Linked DNA regions of Homo sapiens: region 2 is linked to region 1. The links come from fine-mapping of genetic effects on gene expression. Tissue or cell type: ovary. Region 1 holds a variant in brackets; the other region holds the start of a gene. All regions are shown on one strand. Distances are from middle to middle.

What was found.
Region 2: PLPP2 starts here. The variant in region 1 is fine-mapped to the expression of PLPP2 in ovary (GTEx, PIP above 0.99).

Annotation. Positions count from the first base shown.
Region 1 is chr19:313,435-318,796 of GRCh38, forward strand. It overlaps MIER2 (MIER family member 2), which reads right to left. Exons shown (of 14, transcript NM_017550.3): 8 at 58-209. Among named protein-coding and RNA genes, the nearest start is that of PLPP2, 25 kb to the left of the region's middle. The variant G/A (reference allele first, on the strand shown) is at 2,951.
Region 2 is chr19:289,116-294,409 of GRCh38, forward strand. It overlaps PLPP2 (phospholipid phosphatase 2), which reads right to left and starts at 2,288. Exons shown (of 6, transcript NM_003712.4): 1 at 2,170-2,288. The coding sequence starts at 2,221. RefSeq lists enhancers at 786-1,484, 941-1,454, 1,485-2,182, 4,882-5,294.

The DNA of each region.
Region 1 (5,362 bases):
TCTGGCCCACGCCACGGCAGCCCTCAGCCCCTCTGTCCCCGGCATGGCAGCCCCCACCTGCTCACTGTCTTTCACGGCTTCTCCCTCTGGGAGCTGAGGCCCGGCCATCTCGTGCCAACGCCGCTTCACCGCCCTGTACAGGAACTCCTCCACCTCCCTCTCAGGGAGGACGCTGGGGTCCCAGAGCAGCTGGTCTTCGTTCTCGTAGACTGCACAAGCAGAGGGCAAAGGTCAGCTTGCAGGAACCCAATCTGCACCCACACACGCCAGGACAAGCAAAGCAGCCAACTCAGCCCCTGACAGGGAGGAGGCACTGTCCGTCCTCCCTTTCCCAAGCCCTGGGCCGCCATCCCTGTGCTCCTCCTGGGCTTGGTGCTGCTGTGCTCAATTCAACTACCGAGTGGGTCCAGAGCAGGCTCTGGGCACCACACACAGGCCTGTATCCCAACGACCAAGTGCAGGGAGCCATGAGCAGTCAGCAGGGGCGCCTGATCCAGCCAAGGGGTCAGAGGAAGCTGTGGACAGCCTAGATCTGGGGCAGGGGAATTCTAAGCAAGGACTCTGCAGAGGGGGTTCTAAGTAGTGAGACCAGTGAGGTGAGGCTGGCTTCAGGCTGCACAGCTACAAGGGCACCTGAAATGCAGAGGCCTGAGGGAGCAGCAAGGACGCCCCCGACTCTGCATAAAGGCAGCTGAGACTTGGGCCCGTGGACAAGCGGGAGCCCCCACAGTTAGGCACTGTCGCGCTCTAACCCTGGGAGCTGAAGAGCCACGGCCAGAAGGTGCATCACCTCTGGGGAGACATCCTGCCCCCGGTAGCTGGTGTGGATGGCAGATGTGCTCACAGAGGGGAGGAAAAGTCCACGACCTCAGATGCAATTGGCTTTCGGCAAAGGGAGGGACGCAGCCTCCAGCTGTGGTGAGGGACGTGACTGGGGACAAGGCAGGGGAGAGCTCAGGGCCAGGTCTGGCAAGGCTCAAGTGCCAGCACCTCTCAATTATCCAGGAAAGAGGCACAGGATCCCAAACAAAGCAAACCAACAAATAAAAAACAAAATCAGTGCACGGGAAGAAATGTGAAAAACGCACTGGGGAAAACAGCTCCACACGGGAGTCTCCACTGCCGGGGGCTGACGCGGTAACTAGCTCCCAGGTTGGTGCTGTGCCCCACCAAGCAGGGGCCTCTCCCGGTCCTCATGGCCATGAGGAAAACAGGCAGACACCACAGCCACCTTTCTCCATCTCCACAGGCGACACCTGAGCCCTGCTTGGACAGAGGTGGTCTCCAAGAAAACAGCAGACCATCTCTGGAGAAAAAGAACACCACATACAGCCTAGCATGTGAAGGGTGGGAAAACACGAGGGAAAAACATTAACCGGATGTGAGGGCTCATGTCTGTAATCCCAGCACTCTGGGAGGCTGAGGTGGGAGGATCGGTTGAGGCCAGAGTTTGAGACTCGCACACTCCATCTCTACAAAAAATTTCAAATGTAGTACAGGCACGTCTGTAGTCCCAGCTACGGTGGGATTGAGGCTAAGGTGGGACTGAGCCCAGGAGGTCGAGGTTGCAATGAGCCATGATTGCACCACTGCACTCCAGCCTGGGAAACAGAGCAAGACCCTGTCTCAGAATAAAACAAGAAAACAAGGCCAGGCGTGGTGGCTCACGCCTGTCATCCCAGCACTTTGGGAGGCTGAGGCGGGCGGGTCACCTGAGGTCAGGAGTTCGAGACCAGCCTGGCAAACATGGCGAAACCCCAGCTCTACTAAAAATACAAAAATTAGCCGGGCGTGGTCATGGGCGCCTGTAATCTCCGCTACTCGGGAGGCTGAGGGAGGAGAATCACTTGAACCCGGGAGGCAGAGGTTGCAGTGAGCCAAGATCGCGCCACTGCACTCCAGCCTGGGCGAGAAGAGCGAGACTCCGTCTCAAACAAACAAACAAAACAAGAACACATCAGACAACAAAGCAGGTCTACACACAGCCGATGTTAAGAGTCAGCACACGAAGACTTCAATCTAACGAGGATTAATACGTTAAGGAAATGGACAAAACGCCGGAGAGTCTCAGCAGAGACTTGAAATTTATAGAAAAGAATCTCAAGGACCTTCCAGGACTGGATAATACAATACCCGAATGGACCCACTGAACAGCTTTTTTACCAGCAGCCTGAACACAGCACAAAACACAATTAGTGGAATCAAAAGGAAACCAATGTTTACAAGACCAAAACCAAAGTGTAAAAGGAAAGAACACCGTTTAGGGTAGTACAAGACAGTGAGGCAACCTCTAAGATACGTGTAAATGAGTGACAGAGAAAGCAAAGAAGGAGGCAGCACAAAATCTGAAGAGGTAACAGCCAAGAATTCTTCAAAACTGACGACTGATACCAACCCACAGAGCCAGGAAACTCAGGACGAATACAAGGACACACGAAGACGTGTGCACAGGCACAGGAGAGCCAAACTGGTGAAAAACAAACAAATAAAGGAAAGGAAACAACTCTTAGGAGAGAAAAGGGCACAATGACTTCAGAAGAAAGAGTAAGACCGTCCTCTGACTTCTCAACAGAAACGATGACAGCCAAAACGCAATGGAGTGAAATTTTTCAAGTGTTGAAAGAAAACACCCTGCAAACCTGGAAAAACATGCCATGAAAATATGCTTTAAAGAATGAAAGCAAAAATCCAGGCTTTTCAGACAAAAAAATGCTGAAAGAAAGCACAAGGCCTATTACAAAGGAAGTTCTTCCGGCTGAAGGAAATGATTCCAAATGGAAGCTGGAGGAAATATGTGGATAGGATAAATACAAAGAATGTTCACTGTTTAAAACAACAATGTTATCATCTTGTGATATGTAGATTTTTTTTTTTTGGAGATGGAGTCTTGCTCTGTCCCCCAGGCTGGAGTGCAGTGGTGCGATCTTGGCTCACTGCAACCTCCATCTCC[G/A]GGGTTCAAGCGATTCTCCTGCCTCAGCCTCCCGAGTAGCTGGGACTACAGGTGCCCACCACGCCTGGCTAATTTTTGTATTTTTAGTAGACACAGGGTTTCACCATGTTGGCCAGGCTGGTCTCAAATTCCTGACCTCAGGCAATCTGCCTGCCTCGGCCTCCCAAAGTGCTCGGATTATAGGCATGAGCCACCACAGCCGGCTCATATGTAAAATTAACGATAGCACAAAAGGCAGGGGGCAGGTAAATTGAGTTAAACTGTTTCTTGCATTGTAGGGGAACTAGAATGTACTTATTTCAAGCTGTGAGGCCCGGTGTGGTGGCTCACTCCTGTAATGTCAGCACTTTGGGAGGCTGAGGTCACTGGAGGTCAGGAGTTCAAGACCAGCATAGCCAACACAGTGACACCTCATCCCTACTAAAAATACAAAAATTAGCTGGGGATGGTGGCGTGTGCCTGTAGTCCCACCTACTTGGGAGGCTGAGGCAGGAGAATCGCTTGAGCCCAGGAGGCGGAGGTTGCAATGAGCCGAGATCACACCACTGTACTCCAGCCTGGGCGACAGAACAAGACTCTATCTCAAAAAAAATGTAGACTGTGATAAGTCAATAATTCATGTTGTAACCTCTAAAGCGCTAAAACTAAAACTTATAAGCTGAAACAGAAGGACAAAATAAACCTATTAATCCAAAAGAAGATATAAAAAAATTAAAAAACAAACAACAGGCCAGGTCCAGTGGCTCACGCCTGTAATCCCAGCACTTTGGGAGGCCGACGTGGGCGGATCACGAGGTCAGGAGATCGAGACCATCCTGGCCAACATGGAGACAACCCATCTCTACTAAAAATACAAAATTAGGCCGGGCGCGGTGGCGGGCACCTGTAATCCCAGCACTTTGGGAGGCTGAGGCGGGCGGATCACGAGGTCAGGAGATCGAGACCACCCGGGCTAACACGGTGAAACCTCGTCTCTACTAAAAATACAAAACATTAGCCGGGAGTCATGGCGGGTGCCTGTAGTCCCAGCTACTCAGGAGGCTGAAGCAGGAGAATGGCGTGAACCCGGGAGGCGGAGCTTGCAGTGAGCTGAGATCGCGCCACTGCACTCCAACCTGGGTGACAAAGCGAGACTCTGTCTCAGAAAAAATAAATAAATAAATAAATAAATAAATAAATAAAATAAAAATACAAAATTAGCCAGGCATGGTGGCGGATGCGTGTAATCCCAGCTACTTGGGAGGCTAAGGTAGGAGAATCACTTGAACCCGGGAGGTGGAGGTTGCCGTGAAGTAAGATCGCATCACTGCACTCCAGCCTGGGCAATGAGAGTGAGACTCTGTCTCAAAAAAAAAAAAAAAAACAAACAAACAAAAAACAAAGAACAGATGGAACACACAGAAAGCAAAGAGCAAGATGGTGGCATTACACAATTGTTTTATAATTACATGACATACAAGTGATTTAAAAAATGTACATGGACTAAAAAGTCTATTAAAAGACAATGGTTTTCTCAGACAATTAAAAATAAGATCTAGGTCGGACACAGTGGCTCACACCTATAATCCCAGCACATTGGGAGGCCGAAGTGGGCAGGTCACTTGAGGTCTAGAGATTGAGACCAGCCTGGCCAACATGGTGAAACCCCATCTCTACTAAAAATACAAAACTTAGCTGGGCATGGTGGCGGACGCCTGTAATTGCAGCTACTTGGGAGGCAGAGGGGGAAGAATTGCTTGAACCCGGGAGGCGGAGGCTGCAGTGAGTGGATATTATGCCAATGCACTCCAGAGACTCCGTCTCAAAAAACAAGATCTAAACATGTGCCATTTACAGAAAATACACTTCAAATATAGGAATCTAGAATGGAAAAAAGAATGGGAAAAAACCATGCAAACACTAAACAAATCAACAAAAAGCTGCTGTGGTCACACTGATGGCAGATTAAGTACTTATTTACGGTAAGAAGTGTTACTACAGAGAGACACGTCACAATGGTAAAAGAAACAATTCAACACAAAGACAAAGCAATCTTAACGTGTATGCACTTAACACAATGTGAAGTAAAAATGGACAGCATTAAAAAGGGGAAATAGACAATCCACAATCAGAGGAGGTCATTAACAATCTTTCAGTAAATAGAACAAGCAGCCAAAAAAATTAAGTGAGAATACAGATGATGTGAACAACAATTATCCAGCGGATCCAAGGGAATACACGGAAAATTCCACCCAACAACAGCACAGCACACTCTCTTCAAACACGTACAACATTTACCAAAACAGATCAAATAATGGACATAAAGCGAGGTGCAACTAATTACAAAGAACTGAAATCACGGAGTATGTTTTCTGACCACAGTGTAATTCAATTAAAAATCAGTAAAAGGAGGCTGGGCGCGGTGGCTCACAC
Region 2 (5,294 bases), 24 kb before region 1:
TGAGGGTGGCCAGGGAAGCAGGAGTCATCTACGGAGAACGGGGCAGAGGGCAGGCGCACAACAAAAGCCCGGGTCGGCTAGCCCAGAGACAAACCAAGGCAGGGCATCCTTTGGCCCAGCAGGGCAAGTACAAAAGGGTGTGGCTTTTCTAAGTTCTGAATGTCAGCGGAGGGGCAGGGAGCCCCACACTCCTCCCGACATGCTAACTCCAAGGGCCCTAGGACACCGTACACCTTCCATGCTGGCTAAGTCTGGGGAAATAATCTGGTGAAGAAAACAGAGGCCTGCCTCACCGAGCAAGAAAGGTGAGGGAATGCAGAACAGAATGGGCAGGCCCGGCGTGGTGGCTCAGCACTTTGGGAGGCCGAGGCGGGCAGATCACGAGGTCAGGAGATCGAGACCATCCTGGCTAACACGGTGAAACCCCAACTCTACTAAAAATACAAAAATTATCTGGGTGTGGCGGTGTCCCAGCTCCTCGGGAGGCTGAGGCAGGAGAATCGTTTGAACTCAGGAGGCAGAGGTTGCAGTGAGCCGAGATTGCACCACTGCACACCAGCCTGGCGACAGGGCGAGACTCTGTCTCAAGAAAGAAAAAAAAAGGGCAGCGCCAGGGCCTGGAGGCAGGGCAGGACGGCGGAGAGGGCGGGATGTAAGAACCTGCCTTCTGCTCCCACACAGGAGGGGCTGGAGCTGCTGTGAAGGGAGAGGCCTTGGAGGAGGCTCCTGCAGTTGCCGGCCGGGTGGAAAGTCAGGGTTACGAGATGCCCAGAAGGGAGTGCAGCCCGACCACAGCTCTTATCGGGCGGAGGCTCACACAGGTTAGCCTCCGTTTCCGACCTCCCTGCCCCAGCAACTCCAACTAGAGACGCAGGCACCCCCATAACGACAGGCGCCGGGCTTCCCTCGGCCTGGAAAGCTCTCCCTGGGGTCCCCAAAACAGACACCTTCTCTTCATTTAGCCCCCGGGAGCCCTCCCGCCCTCACACTGCCCTCATGCCAGCATCTGGAACCTCAGTGTTGACTGAACTGTGGTGTGCTCAAGCTTCCAGCATAGAGGTGCACTCGGCCTGGCCACCACCCCTGGCACACAGCAGCAACAGCCAACCCCATCTCGGCTGTACCTCCCGCTGCTGTGTGACCTCCGGCAGGTGACTCAGCACCTCCCTCACAGGCTGTTGTAAGGGAAATGTTTGTTATTTGCATGTTGCTTAGTTCCTGGCATACAGAAAGTGCCACCTAAATGTTTACATAAATAACACCATAGGTGCTCAGGAAATGGTACCACGGGCTGGCAGACACCCACAGGGACTTCTTGCTGTCACCTGGCCCACCCTAAAAAAGGGTCTCCTTCCGGAGGTAAGAGGACTTGGCCTCTGCTGTGAGATGGCAGAGAAGCAGGAAACACGTTGGGGAGGAGGGCACCCCCCAGAGATAGAATTCCAGGGCCATTGTCTGTGCAGCCACAGAGCAAACACTCGGCCTTTGTTCCCGGGACCCTGCGGGAGGGGGGCCTCGGGATGCCCATTCCGCCAGTGTGGCCCGCAAACCCGCCGGACAGGTTTGGTTCTCCTGGCCTCCCGGCCCCCCGCCACCCCGTTCACCCGAAGCCTGGGACCCAGCCTTCATCCCCAGTGTCTCCCCCGCCCGAGCCAGCAGGGCGGCTGGGCCTCCCCGCACGTGCACGGGTTCGAATCCCGCCGACGCACCGGGTGCCAGGACCGAGGGTCAGCCCTCTCCGCGCGCAGCGGGAGCGCCCACCCCAGGGGCGGAGGCGCGGACGTCCTGCCGGGGTAACCCGCGGCCGCCCCCACCTCCCGGGCCCGCGTGACTCACCTCCCAGGCCAGGCGGGGCGGGATGGAGGCGCGCGCGCGGCCCCTCCGCACAGACTTCCTGCTGCCGGGGCGGGGGATGCTGGCCCCGGCTCCCCGGGCCTCTCGCGACCCCCATCCCCCTGGGCCTGGGACGCGGGGACCCCCGAGCCTGGGAGGGCGCGCGCAGTGCGGGGCGCGGAGGGAGGTCTGGTCCTCACGCGAGGTCCCCGCCTCCAGGGTCCTCGGAGGGACGAGGGCGCGCAGCCTCCGCGTTCCCCTGCAAACTTGCGCGCAGCCGGGGGCGTGTCCGTCCCGGGAGGGTCCCCCCAACACCCGGGTCCCCAAGGCTCTTACCGACCAGTAAGCACAGCACGTCGAGCAGCACGAAGACCCACCTCCGCTGCATGGTCCCCGCGACCCCCGACGCCGGTCCCAGCGCGTCCCGTCGCGTCCCGGCCCGGCCGCGGAGTCACGTGGCGCGGAGCCCGCCCCGCGCGGAGAGGAGGGGAGGGGCGGGAAGGGGAGGAGGGGAGGGGCGGGGAGGGCACGAGGGGAGAGGTGAGGAGGGGAGGGGAGGGGAGGAGGGAGGGTTAGGGGCGGGGAGGGGAGGAGGGAGGGGGAGGGGAGGAGGGGAGGGCTAGGGGCGGGGAGGGGAGGGGGGAGGGGGAGGGAAGGGAAGAAGGGGGGGAGGGGAGGAGGGAGGGGGGACGGCAGCGGCGGGCAGGGGAGCAGCGGGGGGGGCGGGGCGCGGCGGACCCGGGACCGCGCGGACTCTGCCCCCGCCTGGCCGCGGCGCCCAAAAGAGCGGGTGGGGCGAGCGTGCGGGCGCCACGGGGACCTCGTCCGCCCGGAGTCCCGGCCCTGACCCGGGCTGTGCGGGTCTCCGAGCGGCGTGAGGTCCTCAGAGGCTGGAGGTTCCCCGCGGGTCGGGCCGGCGGAGCCCCGGGCGGGGACGTGGAGAAGGAGGACGAGCAGCGGCGGGACCGGCCCCGCGGGACGGTTCCCGACTTTCCTCCTCAGGGAGTGGCAGCCGCGCCGTGTGCGCCTGGAAACTCCGACAGCAGGAGGCACCTTAAAGTGGAAGGGGCGACGTGGCTTCATTTCAGGAGTTTCTTTTCTCCTAATACTCAAAATCCTGGCGCGTCCTTGGACCCCTGGCACGTTAGAAGCTCGAGTTCCTCGGCACCCACCTTGCGACGGCGTAGGGTGTCCAGGCGCAGCCCTGTGCCCAGGCACCGTTCCTATCAGCGCACTTGCTGTCCCATTTCACAGAAGAGCACGGGGGCGCCAGGAGCTGGGAACCCCATGAAATGGCGCCGGGGTCTGTGCCCCCACCAGGTCGTGGGGAGCCCTGAGCTGAGGGTGCCTGGGGATTGAGGGCACCTGAGCCAGGGAAACCCAGGCCCAAGGGACCCACACTGGGTCCTTTCGGCTGGGACCATCCGGGAGGCCTCAGGAGTGTCAGACCCACGTTTCCGGAGTCCAGCCTTGACCTCTGCCACTCACGGTCACTTAAATGGGAAGTGGCAGGCCTGGGGTCAGAAACAAGGCTGCTGGGCCCCAGATCCGCTGCCACCCTGACCCTCCTCTAAAACCCGTTCAGCACCACCATCAGCCCCCTGCCCCAGCAACACCAAAACAGGGTGCGTCTCAGCAACTGGACTTCAACTGGGAGCTCCTCGACCCTGCTTCCCGGATGGTCAGACACCTGCACGTGGGGCAGGGGGGCATCATGAGGGAACTCCAAGGGCAAGGGGCTCTTGGGAGACAGCAAAGGCACCCAGAGTGGTGCTGGGTGGGAAGACGGTGCAAGCTGACCTGTGGCCCTCCAAGGGCAGGGTTGAGGTGCTCCCTTGCTGCACTCACGGTGGGGTGGGGGGGCTCTAGCTCCCGTCGGAATTAGGATTGTGAGGGTTCTGGTGCCTAGCATCAATGCTACATAAATGTAGGGTTCAGCGTCACTACTGCGCTTTCCCCCACACTTCACCCTGTCTGCAAATGAGTGACCACTGCTGTCAGTGTAGTCTTGACAGCCAACGCACATTTTCTCCTAAGATGGAGAGGGTGCAACATCTACTGGAGTCAAGGAAAGGCGGTGTTCTTCATTGAGCACCTACTGTGTGCTGGGGAGCAAGGGAGAGGTCACTTGGAGGGGCCTGCCAAAGTGGGAGCGGGGGGAAGACAGTGGGGGCTGTGGGATGGGGCCAAGCCAAGAGGGAGAGACCCAGGAGAGGGGTGGAGGTAGACCTGGGAGGATAGAGGGTGGAGGTGAGGCTGCAGGCTGTTCCCCCTTCCATCCTTCCCCTTGGGTCAGGATTTGGGTTAGCCCTTAAAATCCCTGGGCAGGATAAGGATTAAAATCTGGTGGGGAAAGCAAGAATTAGGATTAGGGTCAGGATTGGGGTCGTCTCCTACATATGCTGACTGCAGCCCACCACACTTCAAGGAACTTCTTGTCACGGCTTTCATAGCTGGATCTGCTGCTGCCCCCAGCTGCCTGGTCCTCCCTTCCAGGAAGAACCTGAGGCCAGGGCAGCTCCCAGCAGGGACAGAGCCTGGCCTGGAGGCCAGGCCTCAGTGGCTTTCTCCTTCACCTGCAAATAGCAGAGCTGGAAGCGGGTGGTGGTACATGTACCCAGGCTGGGTCCCCTAGAGACAAGCAACCCCTGAGGGCCAGGTCGCCACTCCCAGGCAAGCAAGCTCACGGGTTCAGCAACTGCAGCTCCCGCCTCTTGCCCAGCACTGGCTCTGCCACCTTGGTGCCTCATCGCAACCTGGATGGCTCCGGGCCTGTTTCCAAATGGACTCTATGGAGACTAAGACACCTGTGAAGTGGGCAGAAGGGGGCCTGGCACACAGTAGGTGCCACCTAAGTGCAGCCAGCCACTATACCTGCCGTTGCTTTCTCTGCTTCTCTGGGACTTGAGAGGTGAAGTACCTTGCCCAGAGTCAAAACGGGAGTTGTCTCCCAGGTTCCTGGCACGGGGCTCTTGGAGTCGAACGAGTGCCCGTCAGTGGGTTTGACGTGCAGGCAGTGGGCAGGGAAGGCTGAGGGGGTGGATGGTTTGGAAAGACATCTAAGGTATCCCTCAGTCTCTGTCTGCATAAAGGCGGCAAGACAGTAGCTACCACCTGGGATTGTAGAGAAGATTAAATAGTTTGTGAAATGCTTGACCCAGGGCCAAACATTAGGAAACATCATTTGAGGGTTAATTGAACAAAATACAGTGTGGGTAGGTATCACGTGTTTGCTGGGTCAAGATGTAGAAGGTACTTCTTCCTGGGGTCAAGATTTAAAAGGGTTGGAAACCGCTGCCTTCAAATTCACAATCCAGGACCCACGAATTCAAAATTCCCCTCGGACTTTGCAATCCTTGGAGTGCCTCTTAATTTAGTGTAACCTTACAGTCAGTCAGGGACAGGGTAACCCTCCGGGTTTCAGCACCGCGAGTCTGCTGTGCTCTGTCTGTGAGGAGGTC